4 separate regions of the Homo sapiens genome follow, and regions 2, 3 and 4 are each reported to be linked to region 1. Evidence: microRNA targets listed by miRTarBase, many of them from high-throughput screens and not tested one by one. Region 1 holds a microRNA gene; each other region holds the end of a gene's coding sequence.
Evidence for each region. The annotated mature microRNA hsa-miR-190a-3p reads CUAUAUAUCAAACAUAUUCCU and lies in region 1 at 5,131-5,151, opposite strand. An mRNA with a match to its seed (bases 2 to 7 or 8) in the 3' UTR can be bound and repressed. Matches are read on the target gene's strand: a 7mer-m8 pairs with bases 2 to 8, a 7mer-A1 pairs with bases 2 to 7 and ends in A, and an 8mer does both.

Region 1 (7,122 bases):
TATATATATACCTACTATGTACCCTCAAAAACCAAACAGAAAAAAATTTTAAAGAAAAATAAATAAATAAATAAATAAATGGATAGCCCTCACTGCAGAATCACCTGAGGATCTGGTTAAAGATGCAGATGCTGTTTTGGTAGGTCTGGGGTGGGAGTCAGGAATCTGTATTTCTTACAGAGGTGGTTACACACTACTCTGTAGGAAATGCTGGCCTGGACTCAGGAAAACAAACACCATTTAACTTAAACCTACCAGCCTGTGATCCCCTCCAGGGTGAGACTGTGTTTTATTCAACCTATGTTTCTCTAGCACAAAATCAGGCAGAGGAGCCCATGTGATGATCAACATTTGCTGAATGAATATATCCATTCAAAATGCATTTCCCAAGTTCCAGAGTTCAGCCAGAGCACAACGCACAAGGTAGGAGAAGGAGAAATACACAGAGTAAGCATCCACATCATTAGCATCCACTCCTGAGCCCTGGTGGACAGATGCATACACAGCTATGAGCAAGTTCCTGCCCTGTTTGAGGCCTTGAGTTGTTAATTGTACACTCTACTTGCAGCCTTCAACTGGAATTCACAGTTTGTGACATTTAGTCATGCATGGACATACAAATGTAAACACAGTGGCATTTTACCAAGAGGCACTCTTATGTAACAAGACAGCACTGGGAAAAAGAGTGAACAGATGTACAAACTAAGCTTCTACTCTGCCTAATGAAGGTGTTTGTTGCTGCCTCTGCATGCTGAATTAACTTCTCCTTTGATATACTGTTCTTTTCCCCCTTCCCCTTCATTTGAAAAGGCTATTTGGCCAGGTGCCCATCAGCTCTAAGCAATCGTCTTTCCTGGGCTGTCTGGCCAACTCTTGCTGAGGACAGATTTATCCCTACCTGGGCTTTTTGGTAGCTTCTAGAAAGGTCTGAGTACCCTGTAGTTGACCTCTTCCCTGCATGCTGACCTTCCTTGCTCACCCTTTAAAAAGTCAGTGGTCTGGTGAGATCCCTCTTGGGAAAGGCTATATATTGGGTTGGCTCCCTTCCCCTGTTTCCCAGTTGGGAGAGTATTTGGGACCCCTTTATGTTGCTCTGATGGGTTTAAAGTTTCAGTAGCTATATGTCCCCTGGAAGAGGAAATGGTGGTGGTAGGGGAAGTGGTGTGGAAAGTGGAGAAGGTAAAAGGGACAGCCTTTCCTCATGTTTCTTTTGACATTTGGCCTTTCATGGATTCTGAGAACATGGTCTTCACACTAATTCATTCATCTTCTAAGCCTACTTCCCCTCCTAACCTATCTGATGGAGTCATTACAAGCACGTGATTAGTATATGTAAAGCATGGCTGACTCATAGGAGATGCTCAAAAACTATTAGCAATTTCATTATCAAAAATTGTTTTTTTCAGGTTTGGGGCTAAATTAATCTGTTTCTCTGTCTAAACCCTGTTATGTATCCATAATTCCAATAAAAATTCTTCTTGCTATTTCTGATTACAGCCTAAATTCATTATAAGTAAAACCCACAAATCAGTAAGCGTCAGGTACCAAACAGCATAGATGGGCACCAGCTCCTCTCTCAGCACCCAACCAGGAGTGGGACAATCCGGGTGGTAGTCACTGTTCTGTACTTTGACTATGTGACTGTGGAGTCTTCGCTGCCCTTTCTCCAGGTATCAGTTACTCAGTTTTCTGTCACTGGAGGAGCAACTCAACCTTCCTGGTCCTTTTGCCTAGACATGGACAGTTCCAAATTAAACTTCTCTTAGAAGGCGGTGACTAAAATAAGCAGGAACTACCTTTTCTCTTCTGATTTCTCTTGACCTCCTCCTCAATATCCTTACCAACATCCCCCACTGCCCCCGCTCCTCCTCAACGTCCTTACCCACTTCCCCTGCTCACTGTCCTTGTCAGGTCCTGGGCAAGTGTTGGGCAGGGGAAGAGAATGTCCTCCCATGGTCTTTTTCTTGGCCTTTTCTTATGCCCTGCAACCCCACAGCTCCTTCCGCCAATGAACTTGAAGGTGAAGGAGCATAAGGCATGCATAGGAGATGGCCAAAGGGCTTGCCTCCCTCCCTGAAAACTTACTTTGAGGGAATGCTTTGTTGAGAGCTAAAAACACAATGGTCGCCCTTCTCACAACTGGCTCCACAAACTGAAGAACCACCCGTGTCATCTTTCCAGTGGGGTCTCAGGCTTTGCTCTGTGTTACTCAGAGTCTTGCAGAATGCCTGCTACTAAAAATAAGGTCATAGTGCATCAGAAACTTTAAAAAAACCCTCTTGGATATATATTTTTTAAAGTGTGAACATTTTGCATTTAATTTAAATGTCCTTGAGGGAAAAAAGGAGGCCAGTGTCTAGAACTCCCACAACAGGAGTGAGGCATTTTCCTGCCAGTTGGAAGCCGGAGTGGAGCAGGCAGCCACATTTCTCTTTTTTTTTTGTTGTTGCAAGTTTGGCTGCTACTAGTTTGCTTCTGGTATTGAACTGAGAGGTGCCTTGAGGGAGGCCTTAGCCTGTATGCAAAGCCCCAAACTGTGCAAAGGTTAGATCAGCTTCTCCTCTGGAGGACCCATGGATGGGGTGGCTTCAGGACTGCCACCTTTATTAGTTCAAACAAAAGGTACACCTCCCAGAACAACTGGAACTGCTAAGAGCCAGGCATGGACAGCTGGCCTTGTCTCAGGGAAAGCTCCAGAGAGACCTTAAACAGGCAAAATGGGTGGCAGAGAAACTGCCAAATGGCTGTGCCTGTGACTGGGGAGGGACCACACCCTCCGCATCCGAGGAATACGCGCGAGTTCATGCAGTGTCTGCTGGAAAAGGTCCGCACCTGCATGATTAGTATCTTGGGAGTAGTTTTCCCATAGTATCCATTGCTTTACTTTTGTGTTCAAAATGGAAAGCAACGCCACTGAAATAATCTTTTAATCACTATTTCTGTTTAAGGGGCCCTTGAATGTCGATATAGAAAGCACAGACAAAAGATAACAGGGTTCTTCCCAAGCTGTATCAGATAAACTCCCTACATCTTAAGCCCCCTTTCTGTGTCTGTGAAGGATCTGACAAGGACCTACTGGTCTACCCTGGAGGGGAGTCTCCCATACTTGCTTTTCTTATTTATTTATGTTTTTGAGACCGAGTCTCACTCTGTCACCCAGGCTGGAGTGCAGTGGCACGATCCCGGCTCACGGCAACCTCCGCCTCCCAAGTTCAATCGATTCTCAGCCTCCTGAGTAGCTGGGACTACAGGCGTGCACCACCATGCCTGACTTATTATATATATATATAAATATATATATATATAATATATTTATATATATTATATATTATAATATATATTATAATATAATATATAATATATATTATAATATATAATATATTATATAATATATAATTATAATTATATTTAATATATATAAAAATATATTTTTATATATATTTATATTTATATATATATTGTATTTTTAGTAGAGACTGGGTGAAACCCAGCTGTTGGTCAGGCTGGTCTCGAACTCCTGACCTCAAATGATCCGCCCACCTTGGCCTCCCAAACTGCTGGGATTACAGGTGTGAGCCACCATGCCCGGCCCCATACTTGCTTTTCACACCCTGTATGCTCCTGGTCTGGAACCAATGAGTGCCACTCAAAGCCCAAGTGCAGCCATACAGAAAATGCTGTATTTGTCCTCCTCCTTCCTGAACAGTTGGTTCCTTTTTCCCTTCACCATATTAATCACTACAGAGAACATGCTGGTCAGTGACAAAGTCACCCAAAGAAACAAGAAAATCACATCAATTCAAACAACTGGGCTTCGTCTGCAGGTCCTTTTGAAACCATGTTTTTCTTTGTTCGTAATAACTTGCTGTCTCTTTTCCATGGCCATTTGCCATTTCAGTCAAACAATGTAACTGGACTCAAAACCAAAGCCGGTGTTCTCTAGCTGTGTGAAGGAGGGACTGATTGGGGCAGCATCTTGAAACCCGCCTGACAGAGCACCTGCCAACACACACAGATCGCTTCTCAATGGAGAAGGATTCCAGAGACAGGATCCATTATGTAACTCCAGAAGCCAGGACTCCAACATTACAGGACCCTCTCCTGTGTCATCACCTCTCTGATGTTGCTGTTGGTGACCCTGTCACTATGCATTCACCTGTAAGCAATGTGGCAATGACTTCTAGACACAGTAAGGGGAAGCTTTCATGACTACCTGTTTAAACCATTTGCTTACACCTTTTCTCCTCCAAAACATTGAGAACAGTAGTTCTCTTTCCAGAAAGCAGTGCTCACAAAGTATTTTGTTTGTTGAGAGAACTCAGAATGAACTCACACATACTTCACAGGCTTTTCTATAAGGAAGAGGTCAAAACCAACCAAAGAAGGCTGTTATGTACCAGAAAAAATGTTTTCTATATCATAATCCCAAACTTCCTGCCACAGTCAATTAGGCTATGATATTACTTTCCGATTGTTGGCTTATTCTAAATATTACCAACCTCCACTGACAAGTTAACCTATAACAGGAAATTCAAGAGTTCAGTCAACATTATATTACCTTCATGAGATATATTTAGTCCTATATCCAAGGTTTGTACAAAGCTCACTGACTCAGTATCCATGCAGCTGGTATGGAGGATTTGCTTTATACATTCTGTTACTGTGAGTGGAAAGGGAAGTCATAGAAAACTGATCTGTGCTCCTTGAATTTTTGCTGAAACCCTGACATGAACTTCTAAATTGAAGATCAGGATAAAAATGAACCAAAATGAAACATGAATCTAGATGTGTTTGAGGCTATAATCCTGACCTTTATTCTGTGTCACAGACATGGGTTGGAACCGTTTTTTCCACCAAGCATATTGAATTCCTTAAGGATTCATCACTGCACAAAACTAAGCCACACAGAATACCCCAGGCTCTTATGAAACATCAACACTTATTGTTTCTATAATAAGCAAGTAATCCAGTAATACTGATACAGGTCTCAAATGCTATAAGAAGAAATGGAAGATAACATGAATTGTAATGAGTGCTCCATCTTCTAAATCTACTTGTGATTTTAACGTGTTCTTTCCTGTTGCCTTATAAACTTTATTAGGAACCCCCGGAGACAGGGCAAGACACTGTAGGAATATGTTTGATATATAGTTGGATTAAATAACAACCTAATATATCAAACATATCACACAGAGGCCTGCAGAAAAGGCATCCAGGTTTGACTGAGCTCGAGACTAGGCACAGTATTGAAGGTTACGGCTGCAGGGGGTGGTCACTTTTGCAGCAACTCCGATAACTGTCTTTGGAGCACAAGTCTGCCTGCAGATGTGGAAACGGCGCCATTAACAATACTGTCAGCACATGCACCAGCGCTCACTGACATTCTCATCTCCCCAGGTGAACAGCAGATTCAACGGTGCATGTCTGGGAGATCCCAGGCAAAAAGTGATGCTTAAGTTTTAAGAGCCTGAGGTGGAAATGTACCAGAATCATCATCAAAGACCATGAGCCATTCTCCTTTAAAAACAGGCAACCTGAGACGGTGGTGAGCAGAGCATTTTAGACAAAATTACTGTCTCTCCCCAAACTCTTCCTGAAAGCAGTGTGAATACTCCCCAGAAGGAACACACATCCATTTTATACTGAAGGCATGTGTGTGTACCAGGGTAGGGTTATAGGGATGTAATAAGCAATTGTTTACTGACAGTACCCTGAGGATTTTTTTAAGGTTTTGGGAGAGAATGGAGAGAAGTGATTCAACTCAAAAGACTGGCTGATTTTGGTGCAGATTGTTGTTATTGTTTTTTAATTGGGGAAATAAATTCCTTTATAAAGGCAAGGAAGATATTTCATGCAAAAGTTATTGCAATGTGCCCTATTAGGCACAAAAACTATGGTTTGGGTTGCAGGTTTTCCAAAACAGTTTCATAGATAATATCCACCTCTGGCCATCAGGCAGAGAAAGACTTCAGACCATTGTGAAGCATTCTAGAAGTACCCATCACCCTTCCTAATACGATGGGAGTGAGCTAAGGTAGGAACCCTCAAACAAAGGATTCACATCATCAGTTATGTTAACCTTGACCTTGGCCGAAGGACTCCTTGGCTTTCCTGTAAAAACCCTCAATGTAAACACAAAGGCTATATGATCCTAGAGTACTGTAGGGAGTCCTCACAGGCCTACTTCAGCAGTCATTAATTTTTAAGGTGCTGTTATTTTTTAAACCTTTGTTTTATAAAATGTTAAAACACAGACCCTTCCATCATCCCAATTCCATCATCATTCTTGTACATTCCCTACTTATTTTCTTCATCTGTGAGTTTTTAGAGTTGTAATCATAATAAGTACATAATTCTGCATCCTTTCTGTTATACCATGAGCATTTTCTTCGTGCTACACAGTCCTAGCAACCATTATTTTTCATAGCTGCATAATATTATAGCTGCATAATATTCCTTCGAGGAGTAGCTCTAAGGGCACACATAAACTACAAATGGCCTTTGTGGGACTAGACAAGCCTTCTCTGACAATGGGGTGGGAAACAGGGGCTGGTATGGACTGAAACTGCCACCCAGGGCCATACATAGCCCTCCCAGCTGAGTGACAGTGGTCGGACCCTGGCAAGGTAATTCGCCTCTTGGTGCTTCTGATTCTAATGGACTTTTTCCAAGGATCAGATGAGTGACTCCCATAAAGTACCCAGAAGACTGCCTGGCACAGGCTTGGCAGCTGAACAACGCGAGCTTCCTGGTTTTCTTTCTTCAGGGGCCAGTGGAATAATTTTTATTTCAGGCATTTCCTAGGGAGTAAGTCCCAGACACACATTTTCAGTGATGATGGTGATAATAATGGTGATATAGTTACTATCTACCAAGTCTCACTGTATGTCAGGCAGTGTTCTTATACTATCTTATTTAATTATTATAACAATAATCCTATGGGGTAGGAACTTTAATAATTTTGTTTTCCCATCTGGAGTCGTGAAGTGAACGACCAGACACGGGGAAACCAGGACTCAGACAAGAGCTCAGAAGGACCCTGCGGAAGGACAAAGGGAAAGACATTGAAACAGGAGCTCTTAGAATATGGTGAAGTGTTAATGTTAAATTAGCACCAGGCTA
Region 2 (7,122 bases), not on the chromosome of region 1:
CGGAGCTTGCGGTGAGCCAAGATCGCACCACTGCACTCCAGCCTAGGTGACAGAGCGACACTCTGTCTCAAAAAAAAAAAAAAAAAAAAAAATACAAAATTAGCCGGATGTGGTGGCACACGCCTATAATCCCAGCTACTCGGGAGGCTGAGACAGGAGAATCGTTTAAACCTGGGAGGCAGAGGTTGCAGCGAGCCAAGATCGCGCCATTGCACTCCAGCCTGGGCAACAAGAGCAAGATTTCGTCTCAAAAAATATATATAAATATAAATATATATATATACACACAAATGTGATCATTCTCATAAACTAGCTGCCATGGACCAAGTGACAAGATCAAATCCCATTATGGAAGTTCCCACCACCAATTTAACTGTGACAACACTGGGATACTCATTCCTAGTGACTGAGCAGGTTGTCACAGTGCATTGGCCAAACACACAGCTGACAGCCAAAGATAGGAAAACTGTTCCTGTATCACTGATCGGTTGATCAAGCAACAAGATTCATCTGTTCAGCTCTTTACCCACACTTCCCCTATGAGAGAACAGCACACCCAGGTAGTTTCTTTACTAACTAACTGGACAAGGACCAGAAAAAACACCTTTTCCTCAGAATTGTTCACTGCAGACAATCAACAAAATCCTGTTTTTATGCACCACCCCCCAGGGAGGGGACAGCCTAAAGAATCGATTTTGGTCTTGGCTTTTGCTACAATGAACTATTACCTAAATTGAATTCCCCTTTGGAGGCCAACTGAAGGTTCACCATTTAGTAGCTGGTCCTCCGTATCTGTGGGTTCCACTAAGCAGATTCAATCAACCACAGATGTAAAATATTCAGGAAGAAAAGCCAGTAAAGAATAACAATACAGGCCGGGCACGGTGGCTCACACCTGTAATCCCAGCACTTTGGGAAGCCGACACAAGCAGATCAGTTCCAGACCAGCCTGGCCAACATGGTGAAACCCCATATCTACTAAAAATACAAAAATTAGCCAGGCGTGGTGGCGGGCACCTGTAATCCCAGCTACTCGGGAGGCTGAGGCAGGAGAATTGCTTGAACCCGGGAGGCGGAGGTTGCAGTGAGCTGAGATCATGCCACTGCACTCCAGCCTGGGCAACAGGATGAGACTCCGTCTCAAAAATAAATAAATAAACAAATAAATAAATTAGCCAGGCATGGTGGCACATGCCTGTAATCCCAGCTATTCAGGAGGCTGAGACAGGAGAATCTCTTGAACTTGGGAGGCAGAGGTTGCAGTGAGCTGAGATGGCACCTTTGCACTCCAGCCTCGGCAAGAAAGCGAGACTCTGTCTCAAAAATAAATAACAATACAACAACAAATACAAATTAAAAGCCACACAGTACGAGTATTTACATAGCATTTACATTGTATTAGGTATTATAAGTAATCTAGAGATGATTTAAAGTATACAGGAGGATGTGCATAGGTTATATGCAAATACTACGCTATTTTTAGCTGAGGACTTGGGCATCCATGTATTTTGGCATCTGCAGGGGATCCTGGAACCAATCCCCCTATAGATGACTATATGCCAAATCCAAAGTTTTTGAAAAAAAAAAATGTCATCTATTCCTATAACAAATTACTTGAACATAAGTAACACATTTCTGAAGCTGGTAGCCAGTTCTGGTTGAGTCAGTGTGGGCACCATAAGGAAATGTGATATTTGGCTCCCGGGAGGAAAAAAGTCTGCAGAGATTTTAGATCCTATCACCCACTCTTCATAAAACTTCCTGGTGGATGTTAAAGGATTCAAGTTCTGATGGCCCCTCCATTCCTTACCCCCCTCTGAGCAGCAATAAGAAAACAAAATATGAGAAGGGAGAAGCAAAAGACCCCCTACACCTCACCCTAAAAATGACCCAGCACATGTCCAGCCACCTCTTCAGTGCCCTCTTAGAGCTGGTTGGGCATTTGTGTGTGTTTGAGAGAGAGAGAGAGTGTGTGTGTGTGTGTGTGTGTGTGTGTGTATATATATGTGTGTGTGTATGTATGTGTGTGTGTGTGTGTGTGTGTGTGTGTGTGTGTGTATATATATGTGTGTGTGTATGCTATCAGACACAGACCTGGGAGGGAAGGCCCCTAGAGATGGACCCATTTAGCCCTCTCGCTTTACAGAGGAGAGGCTTCAAGAAGGTGAAGCGATTTGCTGCTGTGTGGAACTAAGAAATGGACTTGGATCCCATCCCCAGCAACTGAGCACTCCCTGCACCGCTCAGCCTCTGAATATCTTTGAAGTGGGTCACTGCAGTTCTGCTTCCCCAGAAAGAGTACAGTAGGAGGTCTTGTCTCAGGAGACTGTCCAGTTTTAGTGTTATAATAAAAGGCTTCAGGCTTCAGGCCTATAGTAGCCAGGAACAAGGAAACTTGGAAGAACAAGTTCTTATCTCTGAAGAATTTGATTCCCTAGTTTTCCTGTGTCTGGGAAATAGATGACCTGTGGTATAAGAAAAACAAAAGAACAAAAGATTCCAAGAGTTTAAAATCTGACATTTTAAAAACCAATATAGGCTGGGTGCAGTGGTTCACGCCTGTAATCCCAGCACTTTGGGAGGCCAAGCCGGGTGGATCACTTGAGGTCAGGAGTTCGAGGCCAGCCTGGCCAACATGGTGAAACCCTGTCTCTACTAAAAATACCAAAATTGGGCTCACACCTGTAATCCCAACACTTTGGGAGGCCAAGGCGGGCGGATCACGAGATCAGGAGATCAACACCATCCTGTCCCTCCTAAAAATACAAAAAATTAGCCAGGCGTGGTGGCACGTGCCTGTAGTCCTAGCTACTTGGGAGGCTGAGGCAGGAGGATCACTTGAACCTGGGAGGCAGAGGTTGCAGTGAGCCGAGATCAGACCATTGCACTCCAGCCTGGACGACAGAGCGAGATGCTATCTCAAAATAAATTACAAAAAACAAAACAAAACAAAAAAACTATGTATCAAAAATAAATAATAAACACTTCCCTATGTATGCTCAAATTTTGACTTCAGTTCTACCTAGACATGCAAATTTCCTCATTCATGTGTAAGATAGTACTGATTGTCATTCAAGTAAAAACTTAGGTCTTTTAAAATGTAGTGTGAGGAAAAAAAAGGCAAACAGAGAGGTGTGGTTGCCCTTTGATTCAGTAATGCCACTTGGGATATTATCAACAGAAGCAAAAAGTTTTGTTATCTATGATAGCAACCCTAAATGTCTAATAACCAAGGTCTGGTTTAAAAAATGGTACACCAGGCAGGCGCAGTGGCTCATGCCTGTAATCTCAACACTTTGGGAGGCTAAGGCAGGAGGATGACTTGAACCCAGGAGTTCGAGAACATCCTGGACAACATGACAAAACATCGTTTCTTCAACAAACAAACAAAAAAAACAAAATTATTATAGCTGGGCAGGAGGTATGTGCCTGTAGTCCCAGCTATTCAGGAAGCTAAGGTGGAAGGATGACTTGAGCATCAGGAAGTTGAGGCTTCAATGAGCTGTGATTGTGCCACTGCACTCCAGGCTAGGCAACAGAGCAAGACCCTGTCTCAAAAAAAAAAAAAAAAAAAAAAAAAAAAAAAAAATTGTGGTACACCAGTGCTGTGGAGTTTCTGGCTTTGAAAAACCTAAATTAAAAATATTGCAAAAACATAAAAAAGGGAGCCGAGCACGGTGGCTCATGCCTGTAATCCCAGCACTTCTGGAGGCTGAGGCGGGAGGATCACCTGAGGTCGGGAGTTCGAGACCAGCATGACCAACATGGAGAAACCCCGTCTCTACTAAAAATACAAAATTAGCCGGGTGTGGTGGCGCATGCCTATAATCCCAGCTACTTGGGAGGCTGTGGCAGGAGAATGGCTTGAACCCAGGAGGCGGAGGTTGCCATGAGCCAAGATCATGTCATTGCACTCCAGCCTGGGCAACAAGACTGAAACTCCGTGTCAAGAACACACACACACACACACACACACACACACACACACACACACACAAAGATTATGCTCTAATGCTTTTTTATGCAAAATGTGATTCCTGTTTGAGCAGCCTGTCACCCAAAAACTCATTAGAAATGCAGGGTCTACGGCCCCAGACCCACCCCACCAACTGAATCAGAATCTGCATTTTTTTTTTTTTTTTTGAGACTCAGTCTTGCTCTCTCTCCCAGGCTGGAGTCCAGTGATGGGATCTCAGTTCATGGCAACCGCCGCCTCCTGGGTTCAAGCGATTCTCCTGCCTCAGCCTCCTGAGTAGCTGGGATTACAGGTGCATGCCACCACACCCAGCTAATTTTTGTATTTTTGGTAGAGATGGGGTTTCCCAATGTTGGCCAGGCTGGTCTCTAACTCCTGACCTCAGGTGATCTGCCTGCCTCAGTCTCCCAAAGTGCTGGGATTACAGGCATGAGCCACTGCACCCAGCAGAATCTGCATTTTAACAAGATCCCCAGATGACTGTATGCACGCTGAAGTTTGAGAATCATGCTCTAATAAGTGCAGGAGGTGGAGGTGACAATTTTATGTATGATTATTTTTAAAGTATATGTGGTCAAGGATTGGAAGGCACTTTGCAAAAATAAAAACAGCTTAAATGGAGCTAAACCCTCCTTCCCACAGAAAGCGCCTGGTCGGCTGTAGGTCCTCCAGGCAGCTGTTAGGGAGGCAACACTGTTGTGAGGGTTTCTTTTTCTTTTTTATTTTTTTAATTTTATTTTATTCTATTTTATTTATTTATTTATTTATTTTGAGATGGAGTCTCGCTTTGTCGCCCAAGCTGGAGTGCAGTGGCACGATCTCAGCTCACTGCAAGCTCCGCCTCCTGGGTTCACACCATTCTCCTGCCTCAGCCTCCCAAGTAGCTGGGACTACAGGTGCCCACCACCACACCTGGCTAATTTTTTGTATTTTTAGTAGAGACGGGGTTTCACCATGTTAGCCAGGATGGTCTCGATCTCCTGACCTCGTGATCCGCCCACCTCAGCCTCCCAAAGTGCTGGGATTACAGGCGTGAGTCACCGCGCCCGGTCCTCTTTTTCTTTTTTAAATGCATTCCTGAATGTTCTTGTTAAATCACATTTAACAAATGTTTGGAAACTTAAAAGATAAATGAATATGTTGCGCTTCTTTTTAAACCAGACATTAAAACTGGTTAACTTACTGTTTTTCTTTTTGCCTCGGCTATGAGGAATCAGAGCTAAATTTAATACTCAAGACAGTAATACTATTAGTATAGCTTTTTTGAATATTTGTTTTTCTGTCTATGACTTTTATTTTCTATTTTATTAGGTTTTCTAGTATGTTTCTTACAAATCACTTAAAAATTCTTTCTGAAAATAAGGGTCCAAATTACAATAATGACTTCTAAAAACAGTCTGTTCTTGTGTGCCAGGCTCCATAAAACATGAATTTGTGTTTGAAATTATTTCTTCTTTCCCTGATCTTTTTCCGCCTTTCAAGACACAAGTAAGGCCAGGCGCGTGGGCTCACACCTGTAATCCCAGCACTTTGGGAGGCAGGGGCAGGCAGATCACCTGAGGTCAGGAGATGGAGACCATCCTGGCTAACACGGTGAAACCCCGCTTCTACTAAAAATACAAAAAATTAGCCAGGCATGGTGGCACGCACCTGTAATCCCAGCTACTCGGGAGGCTGAGGCAGGAGAATGGCTTGAACCCAGGAGGTGGAGGTTGCAGTGAGCCGAGATCGCACCATTGCACTCCAGCTTGGGCAACAAGAGCGAAATTCCATCTCAAAAAAAAAAAAGACACAGGTAAAACTAAAGGCTTCCTGTTTGCTCCCCAGTGAGGGTCTCAGAGGCCAAATAGCTCCTGCCCCAGTGGGGTGTTGGTCCTCTCTCCCCAAGCAGCATCACAGCCTTACAGCCCAGCCCCTGGTGTCCTGATGCCTGAGGATTCAGTAAGGAAGCAGAGAGCCCCAGCCTTTCTAAGGGCACGCAGACCACCCTCCCATAGAATTACTCACCGACCCTTCAGCTGCTTCACACCTCCTCTGTAATGAAGGAGAGAACAGTATACGTTACTACCAAGTCTCGTTTTTAGGATAATTTCCTGCACACTACTCCATCTCCAAACTACATCAGATTCCTCTTACTCTCAAGAAAGCTTGCACTTTTTTGTTCATATCATTTATCAGCTTGTAACTGTATCGCATGATTGTCTCCCTTACCAGACCATAAGCTCCAACTTAGATTTCCCTTAACCACTGTACTTCCAGTGCCTAAAGGCATTGTTAGGCAGCTGAAGCACATTAGCTGTTATTGGTTGGGCAGATGGGTGATATAAAAAATGAATATGGCCCGATGCAGTGGCTCACACCCATAATCCCAGCACTTTGGGAGGCTGAGGAAGGTGGATCACTTGAGGCCAGGAGTTCGAGACCAGTCTGGCCAACAAGGTGAAACCCTGTCTCTACTAAAAATACAAAAAATTAGCCAGGTGTGGTGGCACATGCCTGTAATCCCAACTGTTTGGGAGGCTGAGGCAGGAGAATCGCTTGAAAATGAGAGGCGGAGGTTGCAGTGACCCCAGATCACGCCACTGCACTCCAGCCCGGGTGATGACGGGGCAAGACTTTGTCTCAAAGGAAAAAAAATAGTGAATATGCTGGAAAGACAGAAAGGAGAAAGAACTATCAGATCTGCTACTGTGGCATCAAAAAAAAAAAGGGAGAACTAATTTATTAATCACTTGCAATGTGCAGGCATTGTTAGTGCTTTATATATGCTATGAGATCCTCAGCACTTCCTTTTTTTTTTAATTAATATAATTCACTAACAAGCTGGATGCAGTGGCTCACACCTATAATCCCAACACTTTGGGAGGCTGAGGTGCACACCAGGATTCTGAGACCAGCCTGGTCAACATGGTGGAACCCCGTCTCTACAAAAAAAATTTTTTTAAAAAGCCAAGTGTGGTGGTATGGGCCTGTAGTCCTAGCTATTTGGGAGGCTAATATGGGAGGATCACTTGAGCCCAGGAGGTGAAGGTTGCAGTGAGCTGAGATCATGCCACTGCACTCCAGCCTGGGTGACAGAGCCAGAATCTGTCTCAAAAAAAAAAAAAAAAAAAAAAAAATACATATATATATATATATATATATAT
Region 3 (7,122 bases), not on the chromosome of region 1:
TAGCCTTGACCTACTAAGGGCAGAATCATCAGCATCACTGTCTTCCACATCCATATCTTATCCTGCTGGAAGGCCCTGGGGACAATAACAGGAGTGGAACTGTCATCTCTTATGATAACAATGCCTTCTTCTGGAATACCTTCTGAAGAAACTGCCTGAGGCTGTTTTACAGTTAACTTTTCTTTTCGTAAATAAGTAGGAGTGCACTCTACAATAATGATTAAAAGTACAGTATAGTAAGTACAGGGCAATAGGAATTTCTCAGCTCTATTGTAATCTTGTGAGATCACCATTGCATATGTGTTCAGTCATTGACCAAAATGTCACTATGTGTGGCACATGGGCATACCTATATCATCTGATTACTGTAACGATTATATGTCCCAATGCCCAACACTGAGAAAGTAAACACTCAGGAAATAGCAGCTCATATTTCTAATGTCTGCTTTCATTACTAATACTATTATGGTTTCCTCTCCTCCAGCCCATACCATGTTTACAGTAGTTCAGTTTTCAACCCAAGACATTTTCACTGGATGCTTTTTCTTCATGCTGGACACTACTCTGACCAAGGCCTGGAACAGGGCATTAGCCACTAGTCTTGCTCAACAAACATTTTTTTTTTAATTTAACTGATTTAGAACATTCTGCAAGCCCCAAAACTTTCTTTGAGCCTCAGTTTTCTCACCTCGAGAAAGTCAGAGTGCTCCAAGATGTCACTAGAAAAATAGTGCACAGCTTCAGCTTTGGATAAATTAATACTACATTGAGGTAGTGGTGGCAGTAATGAAGGGCAGAACTTCAGAAGTTCTCAGATCATAAGCGCCTTCAACTCCTAGATCCTGTCTTTCAAAATGCAGCCGTTATGTTGGCAGATAACATTTATCAATTAGTGCGTTGTAGGCACTGGTGTGAAAATACTTTTCATGGAGTGTCCAGTAAGATGTTCACAACGTTTAGAGGCAGATTGTACCATTGCCATTTCATAAAAAAATTAATGTTCAGAGAGGTGCTATAACTTCTCCAAGGTCACACAGTTATTCAGTGACAGAGCCAGGACTCAGCCTGTAGCTCCCAAACTCCAAGTCCAAATCTCTTTCTTTCCCCTGGGCTGCTTAGGGTATCATGATGCAGGAAGGGATGGGGCCCTTGGGAGGATTCTCTACCGTCCAAGGGATAGTCTTTGACTGCCAATTAATGTCTGCCTTTCATGTCCCACTTTTATCCCTCTAGGTTCTGAAGCTGCTGCTCGTGGCCTGGGATCGCCGCCTCATTTTTGCCATTGGCACCTCCAGCACCACAGGCGAGTCAGACACCGTCATCTGGAATGAGGTCCACCACAAGACAGAGTTTGGCTCTAATCTCACTGGCCATGGCTACCCAGATGCCAATTACCTGGATAATGTGCTGGCTGAACTGGCTGCCCAGGGCATCTCTGAGGACAGCACTGCCCAGGAGAAGGACTGAGGCCAGAAAAGCTTTGAGGTGGGAGGGGCCATGGAGACTGCAGGACAGGAAGTGAGGAGAGTGAGTCAATGTAGAAGAAGTTGGTGTCCTGCCCTCCCAACTTTCTATCCTCCCCTCCTGCCCTGTGTCCATCCCTCATCCCTCCCAACCACAGTGGGAGCCAGACTGAATATAGCGACATCATTCATAAATCTCATCCAACACAAAGGGAGATGGGATGAGGGCCATCCTGGGTCTGTTCCCATGGAGTTTTTGGTGCTGGGTAGGCAGGAATCCCCTCCCTACCCCACCTCCCAAGTAGGGGCATGGTCAGCACACCTAGGGTATGGGCAGTGCTTAGGCACTCCATATCCTGGCTTTGGGAAGCCGGGGTTTCTTGCCTCAGCCGGCTTCTTGCTACTTCCACTCTGCTTTGAGACTGGAGTTTCTGCTATTCTCCCTCTGCTGGAGGCAGGGAGCTCTCACTGTGCAAGGTTGGGGGGTGGGCAAAGGGGTGAATCACTAAACTGCTGTGACATCAGAAACTGATGCCTTGGTGTAGAGCAAGGAAGCACTTCTTCCCAAGAGGGTCGGAGAAGGAAAAGCCTCTGGGAGCACATTCTGCTGTCATCACAGTCCTTGGCTTCTCTGGGCCCTCCTCTCCTCCTCACAGCTCTCACCTGTCCAAAGAGGCATCTGGTTCTCTCATGTGGATGGATGGACTCTGGGGTTCCTCTTTGGAGTGGCATCCCATGATGCTGTTTCTAGACCCTCTCTGATCAAACCAGAGCCTGCATCCCACTGAGCATCTGAACTGTCCTCAGGGAGAGGAGCCCACAGCCTTCTTCCCAACTCATTCTAGACCAGCTCAAAGATTCCATGAGTTTCATCGAGTCACTGTGAGTGGAGCCCATGCTGGGCTCTGTGCCCTCTGTGTCTGTGCATGCGCGTGTGTGTGTGGGCGTGTGTGCATTGCTGGGCCAGCTTGAAGGGAAGGCCCGTCATGTCCCTGCACTCTGTTTTGCAAGATGCCAAACCCCAGTTCTGATGGGGCTCCAACAGCCAGGCTGTGGTCCTTTGACGTTCCTCACCTGTTGCCAACCTATCCCGTAGTGAACTGAAACCCCAATGAAGACAGAACTGTGCCTGGGGAGATGCAATGAGGTGAGGGCTGAACTCATCCTTTTATATTTCTTTTCAAGATTGGATCAGAGCTCATCTCCATCCAGTCTTGTTTCTATGAAGGCTTCAATCTGTTTCCATGCAAATTTGCTAATCAGAGCCCAGAGCTGCTGGGTCCCTCATCTCCCTCATCTATTATAGATTGACTTACAGCAGGGAGAGAATCTCTTTAGCTCATTCCTAATGGAGTTGGGATCACAATATGGTCTGGTCCAATCTGCATCTTGTTGTGTCCCAAGACCCTATCTCCTCCCCAACATTCTTATTGCCTTTGGCTCCCAGTAAGGAACGAATTGGGGGCCAGGGAGGAGAACAGGGGGGATCAAGAAGGGAAACCCAATTCCCCCTTTGAAAGTGGGTTCTTTGAACTATGTGTTTGGGGGAAGTTCCTCTGGATACTAATTTGAATTTATATACCTCATGTTTTGGGGGTTTGACGTATATATATATATATATATATGCATATATATTTCATAATATTTGGAAGGTTTTTGATGCTAGAAAAATGGAAACAAGAGAACCTTCAAAAATGGTACTTAGATGGGAACTGGAGGCCAATCTTTCATAAAGCCAGCCCCATAGCTGCTTGCTGTTAGGCCTCCAGCCATTTTGACATTGGGGTGGATAGTCGATTCACCTGCCTGTCAGTCGATTCACCTGCCTGTCACCCAGTTCTGTGGATGTGCTGGTGCTGAGCCTTTGCTCTCTTTCCAAATGGTTACAGGGATGTTGATCAGCTCCACCAGAGGGAGCTCTGATGGGAGGAATTGCTCTGCCATCCTTGTCCCTGTGTCTCCTGTCGGCAGGCAGCCATTGTATCTCACCAGCAGACCAGGAGACTGGTCCCAAGGTTACTGCACCACAGGGCAATTTCCTGCCATAGTTAGGAAGGAAACACCTGAACTAAATGGAAGAGACATCCCTGCGGTGTTTAATATCACACCCATGCCCTTTGTCAGGTTACCATGTACAGAGATTACTTGGAGAGCCTCATGCCGTCTCTACCTTCGCACACTGGTCAAGTATCTGCTGAGCTTCTTGGCCGCAAGGATGCAGAAATAGGCTGAGGGTCCATGGGAAGAAAGACACAATGAGGCAGTAGGAGGTGGGGAAGAAAAGAAGACAGACTTTCAAAATGGAATTAGGCACTGGGGAGAGATCAGTTTCCCCACATCAGGGAGAAGAAGGTATAGGTGGGGAAGGGGGTGGCCAGGAGCAGAAGGAAGAAGACTCAAGATGGAAAGGGAGCCGCTGTGCCTGTGGCAATACCACTTGGAGAGGTCGACTTCATACCTTCAAGCCTTTTCCCCTGGGCTTTTGATTGTGTCTGTGCCCCCTTTCTTGTCCTCTCTGCAGATGCCCAGTAGGGGCTACCTCATCCTCGTGCTGTTCTTGTGTGGCTTTCTGGGCAGTAGGGATCTTGAATTTCCTTTCTAACACTGTGCCCGGCAAGGCGGGGAGCATTCCTCTGCCCTTTGTCTTGTGCCAACCTGGAAAGGTGCAGTCTAGATTTCAGTGAGAACCCTGCCAGCTGAGCCCTGTGCATCTACTACCTTGACACAGAGTGTTTTCCCACTAGAAGCTCTGCTCTGCTCTCCTGGCCCAAGTAGGGGATTCCATGCCTTCCCTTTCATGGTCTTAGCACCAGCAGCCTAGTTTCTCCCTTCCAGAGTCTCCAGGGATGACAAATTGGATTGGAGACAAACCTCGTCAGATGCTCATCCCCTAAAAGGTTAATTGTGTATTTGTGGCTGCGTGTGCCTTTGTGTTTTCATTCTCTTCCCATTTTTGTACATTTTGGTCTTCTCTGTGGTTTTATACTTGGTCAAAAGTACTCGTCTTGGTATTGCACTGTTGTGTGCATGAGAAAACTGGGGGAAGGCTCACTGGTACAAGAAAGGACCCCTGACCCCTTTCCTTCTCTGTGGTCCCCGGCATTAGATTGGGGGTTCTGGGAGAGGCAGGTGAATGTCCTAAGTGAATTGTTCTGTTTGTAACTGGAATGTTTTTGAAGTCTTTGGTGTTGCTCCGTGAAAGGACATCGCCACCTGGTGCTCATGAGGTGTCTTTGCAGAACAATAAATGGCAAATGAACAACCACAAAATTGTTACTCTTGTTGGCCTTCTGCTGTTTGTAGATTAGTGCACCTATCTGTGAGGGATTTGGGTTACCTCCCTGAGTCTGTAAGCAACCACAAGCCCTGCCACTGGGTGGGGGAAGTCCCTCCCCAACCACTTAAAAACAAATTTTCCACATATTACCCACCCACACATTTGACCTGGCTAGACTTTGTTTGCCTAAAGGAACAGACCACATTGCTGGGAAAATGAGTAAGTGAACGTGTGGGAGAAAAACACTTTTAGAATCACGAATATTCACTTTTAAAGGTCTCTTTGCCTGGCTGCAATATAGTGTGTGTTTAAATTATTTACAGGCTGTTGTTTCTCAAATAAATGTTTAATATTAATCATTCCCAAACTGACAAGAACACAAAAATAAAATGCAAATACAGAGCCAGCTTTGTCACCCAAATCTGTGTCTATTTCTGATAGTCCATGGAATGTGGTTTTCTTGGAAGCCAGGGTTGGTCTCCCCACAGACCCCAGGCTAAGGTCACCAGTTAGGAACCCAGGACTTGGAAGGCAGAGCCTGTGAGCTCTTCCATCAGGGATCTGACTCCGCAAAACGACTTGATGAATGCAATTGGCAAACTCCCATGTTCGGACTTCATATGCATGAGCCGTTGGACAGAGGGTTTCTTAGTATATACTTTAATGCATGTTTATGTGCAATCTTGTTAGTGGGTATACAAGTTTGTGAAGAACTTCTCATTTCAATAGGCAGTTAATGTAATGCATTAAAAGCCTGGGAATTTGGGGCTATATTTTTCCTTTCTGACTCAATAATCTTCAAAGAATTCATAGGAAAGTCAGTACTTGCAGACAAGTGGTTAGCTTGGCTAAAATGTACAAAACACCCAGAACCCACAAAACACTCAGAGGTTTAGGAGAATGTTTTAATGCTTAAGAGGCAGGATCAAGTGAAGAGGTTACAGAAATCAGTGTCTCTGGCTGGGCAGTCAAGAGAGCGGGCTCAAATTCTGTGACTCACTTCTCTGTGTCTCGGTTGGAAATGAATGGGTATCCTGGTTCCCACCTTCCCACACACTGTGATACTTCAAACTCCTTGGGTGAAGGGCCTCTTCTCAGCCCAAGATCTTGATTGTGAACATTAACAAAGAGAACAGTCATCCTCCACAGAAGATAACTCATTAATGACATTTGATTCAGTGAATAAATATATCATTTAAAAAAATATTGTAGGGGGATCATGAAAGTAGTGGAGGTAATTACAATCAGGAGAGATTGGTATTAAAATTGAGCAAAGTCCCAACTCTCACCAGATGACAATTATGCATCCTGCTAGATGCCCCAGGGCTGTCAGCCTGGAACTGAAATAAATGTGTTATAAGTGGTGCTGGATGCCTTTTTCAGTTCATTTGAAAACATGGATTTGATCATGTCAGCTCCCTTTCTGCTGGAAAAAAAAGTAGTTTGCATAATTGGTGTTAACTACTCTGTTTTGATTCTACAGAGTAAGTAATACTCAAATGTGGTCTTACTTTAACTTCTTGCCTTTGTTACCCCCAGAACCATGCAGACATTGAAATGTGGTGTGCGTGTGTGTGTGTGTGTGTGTGTGTGTGTGTGTTCATATAACAGGAGGACAGGAAAGGTAAGGACCCAGAACAATGAAGACTTATTGAAATGTGGTATGTGTGTGCGTGTGTGTGTGTGTGTGTGTGTGTGTGTGTGTGTGTGTTCATATAACAGGAGGACAGGAAAGGTAATGACCATCCATGGAAGATGAAGGGGTAGTACTTAGCACCAGAATCTTTTCCAGTTTTTACCCATCTTTCATTACTCCTTGTCTCCAAATCATCCCTTCCTTAATAACTTAAAATAACTTAAAATATTTTCTGAGGACTTGATGACACCAGTCAGAAGTCCAAGAGTGGTCTGGTATAAGGGAGTGTTCATCAAGGGGCAGCTGGAAAAAGTGGAATTGGCACAGGCAACATCTTTCTTTTCAGATGTTTGAGGTCACCCAGAGGAGATAACAGTCTGTCAACATAGAGCCCTCAAAGTTAAAAAGCAGTAGCCAGGCAAGACTTGTGTCTTTTCAGGGCTCTTCCAGGCTCTAAGAGTGTGAAATTCAGACAGGTTTTTAAAAATCAAAATAAAAGGAGAGTAGTTCTTACAGGCAGAAACTCTTAGAGCTCACAAATTGGAAACAACTGCAAACTTCAGAGTAAATTCATAGCTTCCAAATACAAATGTTCACATTGTCCCTCCGCTATTTTTACACAAATGCATTCAGGTGAAGACAGCAACACACATTGGGAAAGGACATCTGCTTCCTATTTTAGTCCCAGAATCACTTTTGCTTCTAGTCCCAACTGTTCCCTCTCCCCAATCCCAACCTTATCCATG
Region 4 (7,122 bases), not on the chromosome of region 1:
TGCAGGGCTTCATTGACATGCAGGAGCTGGAATGACACAATAAGAAACAGTGACTCTTTATGGAAACCTCACTGCATGACTGTAAGAGCTGTGTGCCGAAGAGAAATAGATGATGATCTAGAAAGTGGTTATTCCTGGAGGGTAAGTTTAATCTTTGCGATCTGCAGTGTTGTTGACAGCGTTATGATAGCAGGTTTGCGCCAATTCTAACTTCTGCTTGGAGGAGTCAGAATTACATATGCAGAATAACACAGACAGTGTGTTGACTCTTGGAAATGAGTTAAAGTTATTAGTCTTTTCCTGCTAACCACACTGTTTCCACACTATCTTTCATTTATCCTTTTGCATTTTTAAAATTCTAAATTCGGGAATTTTCCTGCGTTAACCAGAAGGGAATTAGCTCCTTCTTTCCACTTCACCTTATGCCACTCAGTATAAATACACATATACATACACACACGTACACAGACACATACATTTATTAATGTACGTATATATAAATGTAAATACTCTTTTTTTCAGCCCTGTCAATCTGCTTCTCTTGCTTTAAACACATTCACTAACCAACCACCTACTACAGTCTTTTTTAACGGTGATTTACCTCTTTCAGGTGATACTGCTGAGGAATTACCAGAAGAGTAAAGTGAAACACGAATGGCTAAGTGGCAGATACAGCAACATTTGTTCTCCCATTAGCCTACCAGAAAAAATCATGTACCCAATGGATGCAGATACATGGGGGGAAATTCTAGAAGCAGAACTGGAAAGATAAGGGGAAAAAAAATCACAAATCTCAGGTCTTTGAAAGTTTAAAACTTAAATGACTCTTAGGTTGCAAAAGCGATATCTTTATTCGTTCATTTTGTTGTTCACCTTTTTAAAAGAAAATGAAATGGAACTATTATAAAAGTAAAGCTTTATTTTTGTTTTGCACTTTAGTAAAATTTTTCTGGTTTTATTGTAATGTGGAAAAATCATGAAATGTTATTTTTATAAGAAATAATATACTGATAGAGTGATTTCCAAATACAATGTTTCATGTATTTGTGTTAATATATTTGCAATACTAAATGTAAGAGTGATTTGTATGTTCAGCTTAATGATAATTCAAAATTTCAGGAAGCCACTTTAAACTGACTTAAAGATTCATTAAGTGGTGGTTATAACTAGGCTCATGGGAAGACTAGCTAAGTGAAATTAATAGCAATACATTTAAATTAATACATTGACATTTTAATGACTTTAACATTTCTATTTCAGTGGAATCAGATTGAAATGTCAAATAGTGAAACTATTTTTAATGTGTTAAGCCTGTGGTTTAGTTTTAAGTTAATGTCATCTCAGGGCTAAAGTTTGTCCAATTGAGATTCCCATTAATTTTATATAAACCTGGAACGGCTCTCAGGAGCTGAAAGTAAGTGGAAAGTTTCCAGAACACTTTACCATCAGAATGCCACACTAGCCTGGTAAAACTCTCTTTCTGACAGCCTTATAGCACCATCTAGTGTGCTATTCTTAGATAGCAAGACAAAGGACTTTCAGCTCCTTTTTGTTTTCTCCATATTAAAAAGAAAACTGTTATTCTAAAGAATCCTTAACACTTGTCTTTGTTAAAGTTTATAACTTTTTAGGAACCTTTATTTTAACTTTTAAAAACTTTTGTTTCTCTTTTTTCATAAAAACAGATTATATGCTACTCACTATAACAAATTGTTTATTCTGAATCTGTGGTTACCACCATAGTAAAAAAGTGTCTACAAACTGCTTTAGTTAGTGTGGGGTTTTCTTCTTAAAAACTGTTCTCTATAGCATTAAATATAAGAATCCAGGAAACCAATATTTAACAAATAGGCAAATATTAGAAAGATGCCCCACTATATGCAAATTCTGTATGTTGAATCAAGCAGTAGATAATTAATTGTCTCCTACTATCTTCTTAGAGTTGGAAGAGTCCTTGAAAATCAGGCAGTCAAGTGTCCAGGACTATTCAGTAATTTTCTCAATAGGAACACTGTCAGTCAGCCAGCCCAAGCTGAAATCCTGTACTTCTACTAATAGCATCTCTGTTATGTCACAGAACAGTCCAGTTGTAGTCTAGGCTTGCACTGAAGACCACCTCTCTGTAACGTTTGCCTTCTAGCCCCACTTCCACCCTCTAGAACCAGGCTGATTCAGTCCTTCCTGTCTATGATTGCCAGATATTTGAAGACTGATAGCCTGTCTCTTCCTATGTCTTCTCTCCAATTCCACTGATGATCATAGAGTATAATTTCTAGACCCAACAACATTCTCTTCTGCCCATTTACTCTTAACAAAAGAAAGGGGCTGTGCGCCATGGCTCACGCCTGTAATCCCAGCACTTTGGGAGACCAAGGTGGGTGGATCACCTCAGGTCAGAAGTTCAAGACCAGCCTGGTCAACATGGTGAAACCCTGTCTCTACTAAATATACAAAAATTAGCCGGGCGTGGTGGCAGGTGCCTGTAATCCCAGCTACTTGGGAGGCTGAGGCAGGAGAATCGCTTAAACCTGGCAGGCAGAGGTTGCAGTGAGCAGAGATCACGCCACTGCGCTCCAGCCTGGGCAACAAGAGTGAAACTTCGTCTCAAAAAAAAAGGAAGAAAGAAAGGTATCCTACTAATTTTATTTCATAAAAGATAAGAAAGCACTTGGAAATTTTCAAAGTATGGGAAAAATTAAAGCTATAAGCATTTTGCTGAATAGCATCTGTGTACAATAGTAAATGTACACATATATTTTTAGCTGTTTTTTTGTAATGGATGTTTATTATTTTTGTCCAGCCCCCTTACAATCTATCATCATCATCTGTTAATAGAAGTTATCCTAATTAGGGAGACTCACCCTTCTCACTTCCAACCAAGTGTGTGGTTTTTTTTGGCCGGGGTGGGGGGCAGTTTTTTGTTTTTGTTTTTTTGTTTTGTTTTTTGAGATGAAGTCTCACTCTGTCACCCAGGCTGGAGTGCAGTGGCATGATCTTGGCCCACTGCAACCTCCACCTCCCAGGTTCAAGCAACTCTCTGTGTCAGCCTCCCGAGCAGCCAGGATTATAGGCGCCCGCCACCATGCCCAGCTAATTTTTGTATTTTTAGTAGAAACGGGGTTTCACCATCTTGGCCTCCTGACCTTGTGATCTACCTGCCTCAGCCTCCTAAAGTGCTGGGATTATAGGCATGAGCCACCGCACCCAGCTGGGTTTTTTGTTTTCTTGTTTTTTTTTTTTTACATTATCCTGTTTTTCCCAGCCTCCGTGTTTAGTCCAAGGATGGAAACATGACCCAATCCCCCCTTTTCATAAGTTGGAAGAAAGAAGCCCTTTCCTCTTTGCTGATGAAACTGTTCCCTGCCACACAAAGAAAACGGATCTTGGCCGGGCGCGGTGGCTCACGCCTGTAATCCCAGCACTTTGGGAGGCCGAGGCGGGTGGATCATGAGGTCAGGAGATCGAGACCATCCTGGCTAACAAGGTGAAACCCCGTCTCTACTAAAAATACAAAAAATTAGCCGGGCGCGGTGGCGGGCGCCTGTAGTCCCAGCTACTCGGGAGGCTGAGGCAGGAGAATGGCGTGAACCCGGGAGGCGGAGCTTGCAGTGAGCCGAGATTGCGCCACTGCAGTCCGCAGTCCGGCCTGGGCGACAGAGCGAGACTCCGTCTCAAAAAAAAAAAAAAAAAAAAGAAAACGAAAACGGATCTTAAGTAAGAGAATGTGGAGCCACCAGGGGAAAGAACAATTGCAGGGAAAGAGGCCTGATTATATTCCAGACCCTGGTCCCAGCCATTCCTTATCTGCTTACCTAAATTAATTCAAATTGAGTTTCACCATCATACTGGGACCCCCACCTGATGTGGTTTCGTTGCCCATTTTTCAAATATGTATTATTTGTGGCTTACATTAACATCTTAGATTTCACTCTGACTTCCTCACCAGTCAGTCTTAATCTGCTATAATATGGCCATCACTCCATATGGTTGAAACTGTTGGTATCCAAATTACAAGTGACTTAATGTCTAAATCCACTGGATGCATTCTACTTGTTAATATATTTGACACACATAAACACTCACACTGACACACATAAGTACTTCTTAAAACTCTCTCCTCCATGGGTTGGAACTATAGTCTCTTGGACTTTTCTTTCCCTACTCTAACCCGTCTTCTCAGTTTCCTCCAAAGACTCGCTTTCCTTCACCTACTCATTACATGTTAGTGTTCCCCCAAAGTTCCACCTGTTGTCATCTCGTCTCTATACTCTAACATCCTTGGTGATCCCATCTACAACTCCTATGTCAGCTACCATTGTTGGTGCTAATGCCGTCTATGTCCGTGTCCCAACATCAGATCTCCATGAGATGTTCCAGAAATACATATGCTATTATCTTTTGGATTTTTATCCAAAGATAGTATAAGTATATATATATATATATAAAATATTTGATATATCCAAAGATAGTTTATATATAAGCACCTGAATCAAAACTTACCATCTCATAAAAGTAGTTCTTCCTCCAGTTCCTATCTCAGTGAATGGCATGTCCTGTTAGAAAATCACCATATTTTACTTTTCTCCATCATTCTCCAAGTCCAGCCGAGTCAATTCTTACTTGATTTTATCATCCAAATATCTAAGTAATTCACCTCTTCCCCATCTTTATCTCTGCCTCATTACTTAATTCTTGTCCTTATTTGACATTGGGATTTCTAAAATAACCTCTTACTGGTGTTCCTGCCTCCAGTTCCTTCCTTTTACTGTTAGCAGTGTAGTCTTTGTTAAACCCCAAATTTAGCACGTCACCCTAACTTAAACTCCTGACTGCATACAGGTAGAAATCAAAATTCCCCACTAAAGCCCATAGGGCCTTTAATGATGTGGTCTGGCCTACCTCTCCAGCCTGTTCTCTAACCACTGTCCCACCCTATATCTTTCTGTTCAGTCTTACAAAACTATTTCATAAAAATTTTCTCACTTCTCTGCCTTTGCACAGGCTGTTTGATATACCTGGAGTAATCCCCACCATTGATTCTTTTCTTGGCAAAAATCTATTGTAAAACTTATCATCTTGGCCTGGAAACAATCCATAACTTCTACTGTTCTGGATTAAGTGACTTTTTAGATGTTCTTGTAGTTCTTTGTATAGACCTCTCTCAAAACTGTCATATGACATTAAATTGTCTATTTTATTTGTGTGTTTGCCCCTTTACACTGTGAACTTCTTAATGGCAGGGACCATTTTTTATTTATTTTTGTGTCTTCAAAACCTGGCACACACTAGATGCTCTATAAAGATTTGTTAAATTATTTCTATAGTTATTTATTTTAATCCTACACAGAATGTATAAAAATAATTTACTATATTGTTAGTGAAGAAGATTGTATCAAAATGCAGTATACAATCCTTAAGGTATGTGGGATGCTTGATAGTAATACAAATGTATGAATAATTGTTCCAGTCTTCTCCAAACCTGTAAGAGGGAAATAGGAAAATAAAAATGTTTTGTTTTATTGTTTTGAACTCTTGAAAATAAACTTAACCTCAAAAATATCACTTATTATTTTGAATTATTGAATTACTTCCATCAGTTTTAAGTATTAGCTTTGCAAATTATGTGAATGAACATTAACTTCGATTTTTTTAGTGCTATTGCACTAAAATAACTAACAAATTATGTGCTATGATCAAGGTCTACACTGAAAGGAAACCTTTGGAACTTAGTGATAAATTTATGGTATGGGCTTAGAATGAACCATGCATTTATCAGGCCAAGCCATTAGCATCTGAAAACATGAGTGGGTGGAGCAGCATGGAAGGAAGGAATGTTCTTACTCATAGATAAAATAACATGTTAAGTGTGCACCCTGTGTACAAGAAGCAAGATTCTTGGGGAAGAGTATTAAGGAATTTTGAGTGTTTTAAATCAGTTTAAGATCTAGTATTTAGAAAAATAAATTTAGAAACCTTTTTTTTTTAGCTTCTTCTGGTTTATAACCCAATCTTAGACCAGAACATAATCATCAGTAAAATCTCTGTGAATATAAACTTTCGACCTGAGGCTACTTGCATATGTACAAACCTAATTTTAAAACTATGGCTGGGTGCGATGGCTCACACCTGTAATCCTAACACTTTGGGAGGCTGAGGCCGACAGATTGCTTTAGCTCAGGAGTTCGAGACCAGCCTGGGCAACATAGTGAGACCTTGTCTGTACTAAAAATTTTAAAAATCAGCCAGGTGTGGTGGCGCATACCTGTAGTCCAAGCTACTCAGGAGGCTAAGGTATGAGAATTGCTCGAGCTTGGGAGACTGAGGCTGCAGTGAGTTGTGATCGCACCACTGCACTCCAGCCTGGGTGACAGAGTGAGGCCCTGTGTCAAAAGAAAAGAAAAATGTAATATACCCCTGACCACTTTAACTTCATCTTTGCTTTGACTTTATATCATGTCTTCTCTCCAAGACTTCAAATGCCCTAGTAATATTAATGAAAGTAAGATGAGTAGCAACTTAAGGAAATGGGTTGGGAAGAATACATAAGATGGAAGATCACACATTTTTATTTAGAGTTTAAGACCAAAAACATCAAATTGATGAAATCAGATCAACAATGGACGAAGCTGATTAATTATAACAGCTGACATTAATTGAATGCCTTCTTGTACCAAGCATTGTTCTTACACGATGTATGCTTACTCTATATCCATTTTATGGATGAGGAAACTGAAAGAGAATGATGTTTTCCATCTATTTAATCACCACTTCCCAGCACTTACAAGAATGTGTCATACATAGTAGGTACTCAATAAATGTTTATCAAATGACTTCAGAAACTTAGAATGAATAACTTAGATGAAAGAGCCAAGAATGTCCCTCCAAGTTTTTCACTGGAAAAATTTCAAACCCACAGAAAAGTAAAAATATATGACAAATCACTATTTTGTACACCATCCACCTAGAAATACAAGTTGTTAACATGTTTCTATGTTTGTTTTGTTTATTTATTCATCTTTGCTGAAACATTGAAAAGAAGTTGCAGACATGATGATACTTCACCCCTAAATACTTCAGCATGTATCTCCTAAAAATACACTCCTACATGCAATATCATTATCA

Region 2: the mRNA of LHFPL5 is a reported target of hsa-miR-190a-3p. Seed matches in the 3' UTR shown: 7mer-m8 at 2,060-2,066, 7mer-m8 at 2,058-2,064, 7mer-m8 at 2,000-2,006 and 7mer-m8 at 1,998-2,004.
Region 3: miRTarBase lists DTX4 as a target of hsa-miR-190a-3p. Seed matches in the 3' UTR shown: 7mer-m8 at 3,069-3,075, 7mer-m8 at 3,071-3,077, 7mer-m8 at 3,073-3,079, 7mer-m8 at 3,075-3,081, 7mer-m8 at 3,077-3,083, 7mer-m8 at 3,079-3,085 and 2 more.
Region 4: miRTarBase lists FBXO48 as a target of hsa-miR-190a-3p. Seed matches in the 3' UTR shown: 7mer-A1 at 1,381-1,387, 7mer-m8 at 4,428-4,434, 7mer-m8 at 4,430-4,436, 7mer-m8 at 4,432-4,438, 7mer-m8 at 4,434-4,440, 7mer-m8 at 4,436-4,442 and 2 more.

The regions. Positions count from the first base shown.
Region 1 is chr15:62,822,037-62,829,158 of GRCh38, reverse strand. It overlaps MIR190A (microRNA 190a), which reads right to left and starts at 5,202; the gene lies at 5,118-5,202. All of the region lies in intron 54 of TLN2 (talin 2), which reads right to left.
Region 2 is chr6:35,818,325-35,825,446 of GRCh38, reverse strand. It overlaps LHFPL5 (LHFPL tetraspan subfamily member 5), which reads right to left. Exons shown (of 4, transcript NM_182548.4): 3 at 5,984-6,010; 4 at 1,377-2,465. The coding sequence ends at 6,000. Among named protein-coding and RNA genes, the nearest start is that of LHFPL5, 17 kb to the right of the region's middle.
Region 3 is chr11:59,203,443-59,210,564 of GRCh38, forward strand. It overlaps DTX4 (deltex E3 ubiquitin ligase 4), which reads left to right. Exons shown (of 9, transcript NM_015177.2): 9 at 1,234-5,146. The coding sequence ends at 1,467. MPEG1 (macrophage expressed 1) reads right to left here. Exons shown (of 1, transcript NM_001039396.2): 1 at 5,068-7,122. Among named protein-coding and RNA genes, the nearest start is that of MPEG1, 5.9 kb to the right of the region's middle.
Region 4 is chr2:68,457,859-68,464,980 of GRCh38, reverse strand. It overlaps FBXO48 (F-box protein 48), which reads left to right. Exons shown (of 4, transcript NM_001024680.3): 3 at 1-141; 4 at 611-5,559. The coding sequence ends at 772. Among named protein-coding and RNA genes, the nearest start is that of FBXO48, 5.9 kb to the left of the region's middle.